Regions from separate parts of the Homo sapiens genome. Here region 2 is linked to region 1. Evidence: fine-mapped expression QTL. A gene starts in region 1. The other region holds a variant in brackets. All regions are shown on one strand. Distances are between the middles of the regions. Region 1 holds the start of MON1B (MON1 vesicular trafficking associated B). Region 2 holds the start of LOC124903726 (a long non-coding RNA gene).

Evidence for each region. PIP is the estimated chance that this variant, and not a neighbour inherited with it, causes the effect.
Region 2: its variant is fine-mapped to the expression of MON1B in tibial nerve (GTEx, PIP above 0.99). The same link has a PIP of 0.9 or more in left ventricle, lung and skeletal muscle.

Annotation. Positions count from the first base shown.
Region 1 is chr16:77,188,481-77,193,851 of GRCh38, forward strand. It overlaps MON1B (MON1 vesicular trafficking associated B), which reads left to right and starts at 2,710. Exons shown (of 6, transcript NM_014940.4): 1 at 2,710-2,778; 2 at 2,996-3,153; 3 at 4,971-5,297. The coding sequence starts at 3,006. It overlaps LOC124903725, which reads right to left and starts at 2,086. Exons shown (of 1, transcript XM_047435021.1): 1 at 1,428-2,086. The coding sequence starts at 2,086. The coding sequence ends at 1,742. RefSeq lists enhancers at 2,428-3,376, 2,502-2,791, 2,812-2,861.
Region 2 is chr16:77,209,371-77,214,741 of GRCh38, forward strand. SYCE1L (synaptonemal complex central element protein 1 like) reads left to right here. Exons shown (of 11, transcript NM_001129979.3): 6 at 47-101; 7 at 1,843-1,906; 8 at 2,760-2,829; 9 at 2,912-2,999; 10 at 3,204-3,276; 11 at 3,487-3,845. The coding sequence ends at 3,561. It overlaps LOC124903726 (a long non-coding RNA gene), which reads right to left and starts at 2,761. Exons shown (of 2, transcript XR_007065121.1): 1 at 2,659-2,761; 2 at 2,217-2,561. RefSeq lists silencers at 2,761-3,120, 3,181-3,510, 3,621-3,710, 3,741-3,790 and an enhancer at 2,868-3,841. The variant G/A (reference allele first, on the strand shown) is at 2,704.

The DNA.
Region 1 (5,371 bases):
TTGGTCTTTGCTTTTCTGATTAAAAAAAAAAAAAGGCAGACACACCAGAGATGGCTCTATGTTCCTTCACTTGTTCCCATCTCTCATCTTTGATTGTAGAAATTGTTTAGAGTGGCAAATCATCAAACACGGAATGCTAATAAAGCTCCATAAACTTACGTCTGCAGTTTTGAAATCCAAAAAGCTCCAGAAAAATAATTTTTAAAAGCTCACTTGGAGGTAAAACCTGAACTAAACTAACATAAGACGGTTTAGTGTTTCTCTTACTGGGAGTAATAAAAAGTTTCACTCAGAAAAAATGAGTTTAGTTATCAGGTGTTTCCCAGTCCCTTGCTGGGCTCTATATAATACATGGCACATGCACCTAATTTCATTTCTAAAATCAGGAAAATGTGTGAATTTAAAACACATCTGGCACTAAGGGTTTCAGATAAGAGACTGTGTGACAATTGTTCTTAGTTCTGCCATTTTCCCTGGAAAACAATCTTTAAAGTTCACAGAGCACATCAGCAAGAATTTTTAAAAGGAGCCTAATTGTGATATGGTTTTGTTGAAATACAAGGCAGGTGTAAAAGGAAAATAAATCTCAGGACTCCAAAATTACTAAGCCAAAGGTAAAAGTCAAGCTGGGAACTGCATCAGGCAAACCTGCCTCCCAGTTTATCCCTAAATAAGATATTTACAAAGATAAAGCTACATACTTCCCTCATAATTTGCCCTCTAGGGATTCCTTGTGGGCTGCAAGATCTTTACCCTAAAACGGTTCTGTTGAATTTTACCCTGACAACGTAAATTGATAGTTTATCTTCACAGGTGCGAGACAAAGGAGCGAACCCCAAGTCATCCCTCTGCTCACCTGAAACAAATGCATATCTGATTGCTTCCTCTGAGGTAAAAATGCAGATTGACAAAGCTAGATGAAGGCGTAACTATTCCTCTACTCCCCTGATAAGGTTTGGATCTATGTTCCCACCGAAATCTGATGTCGAATGGTAATCCCCATTATTGAAGGTGGGGTCTGGTGGGAGTTGATCGGATCTTGGGGGTGAATCCTTCATGAATGGTTTAGCATCATCCTCTTGGTGACAGTGACTGAGGGAGTTATTGCGAGATCTGGTTGTTTAAAGTGTGTAGCCCTGGGCTGGGCATGATGGCTCACTCCTGTAATCCCAGCAATTTGGGAAGCTGAGGCGGGTGAATCACCTGAGGTCGGGAGTTCAAGACCAGCCTGGCCAACATGGCGAAACCCCATGTCTACTAAAAATACAAAAATTAGCCGGACGTGGTGGCGGGCACCTGTAATCCCAGCTACTCCAGAGGCTGAGGCAGGAGAATTGCTTGAACCCGGGAGACGGAGGCTGCAATGAGTCAATAACATTTTGCCATTGCACTCCAGCCTGGGTAACACAGCGAGATTAATAAATAAGTTTGCTTATGAGATGTTATTTTATTGTACTTTTTTACATGTTTATTATATATTATATACTTCTAAATGTATTAGGTAAATATATTTTGTATGCACATAAATTTATCCATTGTTTCTGTTATATAAATTTAATATTTATTACTTATCGATTACCTATTGTATATAAAGCACATGATGCTACACTGGTATTTGGAATTCATTACCCTAACTATACTGTAATTAAAATAATTATCCTAACTAGTACCAAAGGCTTCCCCTTAGCAATCACTCGAAGTGTGCCAGCACCTCCACTCACTTCACGTCAAGCGATTCCCATCATTGTTTCACTGATGGAGAAACCAAGGCCCAGGGCACTTGGGGCAAGGCGTTCAGGGGGCTTTCGGTCCGGAAGCAGCGTCGGGGCGGGAATTCGAACCCTGGGTTCCCACACTGGCCCGTGGCAGGGCCCCCAAGCCTTTTCCCAAACTGATCACAGAAAGTGACGACCCGTTCGCCCGGCGGACCGGGGGCGTCGGGCAGGTCCTGGTCCAAGTGAGTGCCCGCCCCTGCCCTGGGCTGGCAGAGTTCTTCCCCCAGCTGCAGGTAGACGTGGGAACCCGGCAGGGTACGGAGCTGCTGGCGCGGCACGCTGATTAGAAGCGGCGACTGCCCGTCAAGCATTCGCGCCTCTCCCCTCCCTTGACTTTCTTGGCAGGGTTAAGGGATAAGAGAAAGTGGAGTTGCCTCAGTTCTGGGAGAGCCCGTTTGTGGGTCCGGCACAGGTATCCATCGGGACTGACGCTGCAAAAGTCCTCTTGTGAAACAAGGAATAGGCTCGAGTCTTCGATTGGGTCGAGGGAGACGTCAATCAATGGATGGGCGTGTGCAAACGCAACACAACGCACAGTATTGGTTAGGATTTGGCGGGGGGAGTAGACAGCGGGGAAATGAGGCGGCTCATCTCGATTGGCCCAGAAAGAAGACGGTCGCGCCCTATGTACTCCGGGATTGGCTAGAGCGAGCCGCGTCCCCCCTCACGCCAACCACTGGTAAGCGAAGTGGGCCTCGCTCTCCCGGGTTAGCAGCCGTAGCCAGATCCGTTGAAAGGAGTGCAGAGAGGTCTCATTGCGCTCCCGAACAGACCTGACGTAGATCCGAAGTGGCCCGCGCCATCTCAACTATGAGGGGACACCCGTAGGCGGCGGGAGAGGGACGCCGCGAGGAGCCAATAAAGCTCCGCAACCGGAAGTGTCTTCTGGGAGGGGTCGTACCCGGAAGTGTGGCACCTCCCGGGCCGCACCCGGAAGTGTGATGCCACCGCCGCTACGGGGAAGTAATGGTATCCGGCCAATTGAGATTCGGAGTTAAAACAGGTGTTTGTATATCTCTATTTCCTGAGGCCCAGTAGAGTCTCCTCTTTTCGGAAAGTGTTGGAGGGGGGACGTATTTGGGCATGATTTTGGATGTCTCGTCCTATTGAAATCCGTGGGGAAATGAGCAGTAGGAGTGTGTCCAAGGGGGCCTGACTCTATAAAGGCTTTTCAGAAGTTTCTTTCACCGCCCGTCACCCTCGATTCCCCTCCCACTCAGGGATGTGCAGATGGAGGTCGGAGGAGACACTGCTGCCCCGGCCCCCGGGGGCGCGGAGGACTTGGAGGACACGCAGTTCCCCAGTGAGGAAGCTAGAGAAGGTGGAGGGGTTCACGCGGTCCCGCCGGATCCCGAAGACGAGGGCCTGGAGGAAACAGGTATGACTCCACTTAGTGGGGTCTTAAAAGGAATCCTTAGGGGTTGTCATTGTTGGACGGGGGAAGGGTCAGTGGGTGACCAGTAGGGAGTCTTGGGACTTAAGAGAAGTGGCTTAAACCATCGCCGGGTCAGGAGGAGGTCACTGTGGACACATGGTGTAGTTTACATCATTGAGGAAGTCATTGGCTGTCAACGGATGTTCACTGGGGGTTTGGTGTGAGTTTAGGTCATTGAGGAATCAAAAAGGGGGCTGTTAGGACCAAAGAGGGTCACTGAGGATTTAGAGTGTTTAGATCAAAGAATGCGCTGAAGAAAGTCAATAGACTCAACAGAGGAGGACTGTTGAGAAGTTAGTGTTTTTGAGGAGTAGGGTGTTATTTATTAAATAATAGAAGTGGGAAGGGGAATCAGTGGAGTTCGATGGGCACTCAGAGTATTTACATCATTGAAGTCACTTGTAGACTGTTGGGGAAGTCTTTAAGGGACCAAATGTTAGTGGATGTGTAAAGTTGTTCATTTGAGATTTAATGGAAGTCACTGAGAAGTCTGTGCCATTGATCACTTTGGAATTAGTGGATGTAAATGGAGTCATTGGGAAGGATCAGTGGACCTCACTGAGAATAAATGTGGATGGGGAGGTTGAGGACTTGGGAATTAATAGCAGGTAAGAGCAGTTATTAGGAGGGAGTAAAGATATTTGGGGACATGGGAGTGTCAGTGAATGTCAGTGACAGAATATGCAATTATTGGGATTTTATGGGAAAATTATTGAGACATAGTTGCACATGGATAATAATGGTTGTCATTGGGGGATGAATGGAAATCAATGGGAATAAATGGATGTGTCAGTAGGGGCTGTTGAAGTTGTGGGTTTTAGTGAATGTTAATGATGGTCATGGGTAGGGGCAATGGAAGTCATTAAAGTCTTGTGTGTTAGTGGATATTATGATGGTTACTGTAGGGAGGGGAGTGGATACCAATGAGATTGAAGGTGGTCAGGGGAGTGACTGAAGGTCTCTGAAGTGCTGGGTGTTAGTGGAGGTTAATGATGGTCATTGTTGGGGGTAGGGGGGAGTAGACATGGAGTAGAATAACTTGTGGATCAGGGCAGTCATGGAGGGTCATTGAAAAACCAGGTGTTAATGATTGTTAATGTGGGGTCATTGGGGTGTTTGTGAACCACAGTGGGAGTGAATAGTGGATTAGGGGAGTCCTAAATATCTGGGTGTTAGTGGATATTAACGACAGTCATTGGGAGAAATAGTGGACATTACCAAGAATATAAATGGGCAACCAGGAGAGTTAGTAGGGGTCATCAGGTATCAGTGGGCATCACTGATAGGGTAGTAGCGGGGGTTGGGGCATTCAAACAGTTAAGATATTAATAGATGTTAATGGTGGCCATTGGGTGAGCAGATATCAGGAGAAAAAATAGCGGTCAGAGGAGTTAATGGGGGATCATTGAAGATGAATAATCGTCATCCAGAGTCAATGGGGTGCTTTGAAGACTTTGGAATAACAGTGATTGAAAGGGAAGTAATTGGTCTGTAGGAACATAGCAAGTCCAGTGGAATAACAATGAGAATATGTTGGTTTATTAGGGTTTTAGGAAGTTCATTGGAACCTAAATGTTAGTGGAGATCATTGCGGGGTCCTAGGGCAGTCATCGGGTCATTGAGGGGCATAGGAGACACTTGGAGTTCTGCGTCAGCATGCAGGGGTCATGGAGGGGCTAGTAGATATTTGGTGGGTCCTTGGGGATGTGGGATTAGTTAGGAGTTCACATGCAGATGACCCACCAGGGGCTCCCTTTCAGGATCCAAGGACAAGGACCAGCCACCCAGCCCATCACCACCGCCCCAGTCAGAGGCCCTGTCAAGCACCTCTCGGCTCTGGAGTCCTGCAGCCCCTGAGAATAGTCCCACATGTAGCCCTGAGAGTAGCTCTGGAGGCCAGGGCGGGGACCCCAGTGATGAGGAGTGGCGCAGCCAGCGGAAGCATGTGTTTGTGCTGAGTGAGGCTGGCAAGCCCATCTACTCGCGGTATGGTAGTGTGGAGGCGCTGTCGGCTACCATGGGTGTAATGACCGCCCTGGTGTCCTTTGTGCAGAGTGCGGGAGATGCCATCCGTGCCATCTACGCTGGTGAGCAAACAGGTGGGAGGCAGAATGGGGGACAGTGACTGGGAATATGGCTGGCACGGGTAGGTCTGTCTGCC
Region 2 (5,371 bases), 21 kb after region 1:
ACTCCCCAAGAGCTCTCAAAGGGTCCCCTTGGTTCCTTCCCCACAGAGGCACTGAGGATCCTCCAGATGCACTGCCAAGAGAAGGAAAGCGAGGCTCAGAGGTAAGAGGCCCTGCCTCAGCTCTTCCCTACCTCATTCCCCAGCTGAAAAAGGAGGGAGCAAGAGCTGTGGAAATGAATCTTGGACACAGAAGCCTCATTTTACCTTTCTATAAAATAGAGCAGCCTGACAAAAGATTTCCTTGGTTATCTCTGATATTAAATGGTCGTGTTAAGATTAATTTACTCATTTAATTATTCGTTACTAATTTCTTTATCAAATATATTCCCTCCATTGGTCTTAGCCTCAGTCTTTTTCTGTTGGCTATCCAGCTCCTTTGATATCCATTCACTTGCTTATTTGCCTCCTTATTTTAAGCCCCAGTCATCCATTTGCCCACCCATTCATCTATCCACCCATCTAGCCATTCACCTACTCACTCATTCATCCATTCATCCATCTATCCAACCATGTCATCCAGCCAGATGGCTGTTTTATCTCCGGCCTTCCACCTAACAATCTTCCATCCATCCAATCATGCATTCATCCTCTCTTTATTCTTTCCATCATATATTCACTTAGCCAAACATCCATCCAGACATCTACCCTTCCTTTTAGCAATCCTTTCTTTCTCTGTCCAGCCACTATTCCTCTACTCATCATTTCTCCAATCAGCTATCATTTCTCCAGCCAGCAACTCACACATCCAGTCAACTGTCTATCCAACCTGTATCCATCCATCTCTTCATCCTCCCGAGTAGCTGAGATTACAGGCATGTGCCACCATGCCCGGCTAATTTTGTGTTTTTAGTAGAGATGGGGTTTCTCCATGTTGGTCAGGCTGGTCTCGAACTCTCGACCTTAGGTGATCCTGCCCACCTTGGCCTCCCAAAGTGCTGGGATTACAGGCGTGAGCTACCACACCCGACATCTTCTGAACTTTTACCTAGCACACTCCTGTTACCAGAGGTCTCTCATCCTGGTGCACCATGATTTTAATTGCATGGGGAAACCTGATGTTAGCTAATGTGTGATACTCAACCACACTACTCACACTGTATGATGAGCATTTATGCTCATTTATGTACCTAATCCTCACAATGATAATTATAGGAGTTAAGGCTAATGTCACCCTCCCATCACTACCACCATTTTACATATTAGGAAACTGAGACCCAGAGAGGTTAAGTAACTTGGCCAGGGTCTCGGTGAAGTAACAGATTAGGGTTCAAGCCAGGATGTTATAGAATCTGTGGTGCCAAATTACCACACGCCTCACAAAGCTTTCTTGGGAAGGCAGAGTTCATTCCATGGGGGACAGGATGGACAGGGTAATGTTCTCAACAGAGGCCCATGAAGGTTCTCATTCAACAGGAGAAACAAGAAAGGTGAATGCTGTGAACAGACATCCCAACTCCCACTCCTGCTGGAGTGAATGATGGGTCATTCAGAGAATATGACTGAGGGTTGTCTTTCCCTTCCCAGGAAGCACATGCTGCAAGAGTGCATGGAACAAATTTTTGCCCATAATTCTCAGGTTTCAGAGTCTCAAACAGAGGAATCTGGGGTAACTCCCAAGCCTGGGGCCTGGCAGGCCACTGTGTAGAAAGTGGGAACAGGGCTTGCATCAGGGAGAGTTTGTTGGAAGAGGTGCTACGGGAACCAAAGCTTAGAGGATAAAACCCATGAAGGGGCTCCCAGCAGAGGGAGCATGGGCAGGATCTGAAGGCCTGTGCATGAGGAGCCCCCAACAGGGTGTCAGGCCTAGCATGTGTTCTCTTATTCCTGGGTGTCGGCCTCCAGGTTGGATGTCAGAGGACAGCTGGAGGATCTGATGGGCCAGCACAAGGACCTCTGGGAATTCCACGTGAGCCATTATCATTGCCTGCAACCAAAGCCACTCCTCCCTGGCTTTAGTGTCGCACTGACTGGCCCAGAGTCCACCCCTGCCCAGGCTCAATGCCGCGGGATAGTCCTTGATTCCTTGCTTCCGCTTGCCCACCTATTCAGTCCCTCAGCTTTTATCTAAAATCAACTTACGCCTCACCATGCCCCACTGCCACACCCAGCATCACCTGCCCAGACGGGTGCAGTACCATTGTGATCCTGCTTTCCCCCTGCTCATCTAGTGTATGTTCACCTTGCAGTGGCAAATGGCAGCCCAGGGAAAGCCATGGTCAGGTCATTCCTTCATTTAGCTAATGTCAGTGGTTGCACCGGTCAGCATTTGAGGCAGGGAGGGAGGGTAGCAGATCAAAGAGTCCACGTCTTTGCTGTCCCAAGCTGGTTGGGGACGGTGGAGGCACCAAGAAAGTTAGTGGCTAGATCGTGGAACTTCAGTGGGAAGGCCTCTAAGCAAGTGACATCTCAACGCAGAGGTGAAGGAAGTGAGGGAAGAAGCCGTGCAGGTATCGGTGCAGAAGGAAGGCCCTGGGGCTGGACGGTGCCTGAAACCGTTGAGGAGCCGCAGATTGGGGAATGGAGGATGAGGAGAGTGGGAAGAGTTCAAGTTTGAGAGGTGCCTGGAGACATGGAGAGCGTTTAGGGGGAGGTGGGTGGGTCTCCAGCCACAGCAGGAACTGCACATTGAGTTAATAAATAGTTGAATGAATGAATGACCTAATGTAGGTGAAGACTTCGCGAGAAGCACAAAAGGGGAGGGGC[G/A]GGCCGTGTAGCCAAGAGGACGGCCAAACGGGGAGGCCTCCTCTTTGTCCTCGCAGATGCTGGAGCAGCGACTGGCCCGGGAGATCCGTGCCCTGGAGAGAAGCAAGGAGCAGCTGCTCTCGGAGAGTGAGCCTCCCGCGCCAGGTGGGCGGGGGGAGGGGGATGTGCCCGGGCCTCGGCCCTGCCCCTGACGCCCGCCCACCGACAGGGAGGCTGGTGCGCGCCAAGCTGCGGGAGGTGGAGCGGCGGCTGCACTCGCCGCCTGAGGTCGAGGGCGCCATGGCGGTGAATGACGGGTGAGAGGGGAAGGGAGGAGTGGGCGAGGAGGGCAGGGGCAGGGCGGAGGGGAACCCGCCCAGGTCCCCCGCTCCGCCCCCGACTGCCGCTTCCCCGGCCTGTGCCTCCCTCGGCGTCGTCGGGTCTCCGCGTCTCGGTGGCTTCCTCCTCGTCCCCTGGACTCTCGCTCTCTTCCTCCTGTCTCCTCGGCCCCTTCTCCGCAGGCTGAAGGCGGAGCTGGAGATATTCGGGGAGCAGGTCCGGAGCGCCCCCGAGGTCGGGGCCGGCGAGGGAGAGGTAGGGAGCCCGAGGAAGGGAGGCGGGGCGGGCAGGGACCGAGTCAGGAGAGAGCGGGCGGGGGTCCTGGGAGCGGCCCCCGAGAGTGGGGTCTGTGGGGAGCAGGGCGGCCCCGGGGACAGAGGAAGCCGCGGTGGAGGCCTAGGGCAGACGCGGGCGGACGCGAGGAGCGTAGGAACCTGGTCCGCAGCCTCACCCAGCCCCCGGCAGGCCGGACCTGAGCTCCCCCGCGCTCGCGACGAGGAGGATCCCGAGCCGCCGGTGGCTGCCCCTGACGCCCTCTAGGCCAGCAGGACCCGCCCGTTCCCGACCTTCCCTCGAGACCCGCCAAGAAATAAAGGCGATGATTTCCGACCATGCTCGCGTTCTCCGCGGAGTCTGTGCTACACCGTGGAGCGGGGCGGGGCGTGCTGGGATCTCGAGGCGGGGCCTCTGCCGGACCCCTCCCACCAGTCGAGCCCCGGGCGCCGTACAGAGGCTGGGTAAATGCTCCTGAACTCAGAGAGAGTAAGTGGGTGTCAGTATCCCCCGCCCCACGGCCTCATCTCGAGTTCCCAAACCATCTATGTTGTCAACAGGGGCCGGAGGGCAGGTGTTAACCCATTCCGGTCCTCGGGGCCTGTGCGTCTCCGGTGGTCTCAGGAAACCCAGAGTCTCTGCAAGACCCGCAGACTCGCGCTGGCTCTGGGACATGCCCGCCCATCTGAGCTCCCCTCACAAATTGGGTTCTAGCCAAGGCTGCCTCTCCACCCGTCTCAAACATTCCAAAACACGTGTCCCCTCGGGGCCTTCGCCCTACTGGTCCTTCTCTGGGGTCACATCCCCCAGGCAACCTCAGATCTGTTAAATGTGTCCGCCACTCTGGAGGCCGGCATTTGGGACCCAAATCCAAAGGCACCCAGCAGCAGGCTGCGGCCATTGACTGAGCATGTACTGACTAAGCAGGCATTTGCCGATTGCCTGCTGGGTACCAGGCACTGTTCTAAGCACTGGATTTTAAACAGCGCGGTCAGCGACGGCCTCACCTAGGAAGTGGTATCTGAGCGGAGAAGCGAGGTAGAGAAGCGAGGGGGTGAGCCCTGTGGGTGTCTGGGGAAAGGTGGGCCTGGCAGAAGACATGCCTCATGCCAAGGCGGGAGGTGAGGCTGCACTTCGCTGTGTTTGAGGAGACGTCTGGAGAAGGCCGGCGTGGTAGAGTGGAATGAGGTAGAGTGGGATGGGAGACGACACTGGAGAGTTGCCAAGGACCAGTCAAGTTGGACACTATCTAATGTGTGTAGAAGAGGACCTGGCACACAGTCAGTATTCAGTGAATGCCAGCTCTCACATATTGTTGGGATGATTCACTATTCCCAGTCCCTAGAGAATGGGAACTGAGATGTGTGACTCACTTAGATCAGAGGCTTCTGTCCATTAAGTGATCAGTAAGTGGTTCATATGATTTATTATTATTATTCCCAGGCTACAGATGAGGAACACTAAGGTGTGTATATCTCTCAGAACAGAGATTTTTATAACATAAATGCTCAATAAATGGTATCTATCATTTATTATTCTCACTGCTATTCTTGCTGTTATTCCCAATTTAGCGATGAGGAAAATTGAGATAGTGAATCTGTACAGTAAGCCCTCAATAAACGTTGGGTCTCACGTTTGTTGCCATTATTATCCCAAGTCCACAGATGAGGCCCAGGGAGCTTTAGTCCCCGAGTCACCACTCGCATCCGGGCAGAGCTGACTCCAGGCCCAGGCTGTGGTCCCCTGCCCCACTGACACCACCTACTTGCTAAGGCCAGTCTCCAGGAATCTCTAAGGAACTTCAGTATCCTCTTTGTCATCCTCTCTGTGTCACACAAATGGGGTCAGCCTGGATATTCTGCCGATTTACCACTGGGCACCTAGGATTCGAGTCCTGGTTTCCCTGTTCACCAGCTGGATGACCTCAGGCAAATTGCTTAATGTCTCTAAAACGCAGTGACCAGCTGGGTGCTGTGGCTCACGCCTGTAATCCCAGCACTCTGGGAGGCTGAGGCGGGTGGATCACGAGGTCAGGAGTTCAAGACCAGCCTTGCCAAGATGGTGACACCCCTTGGTT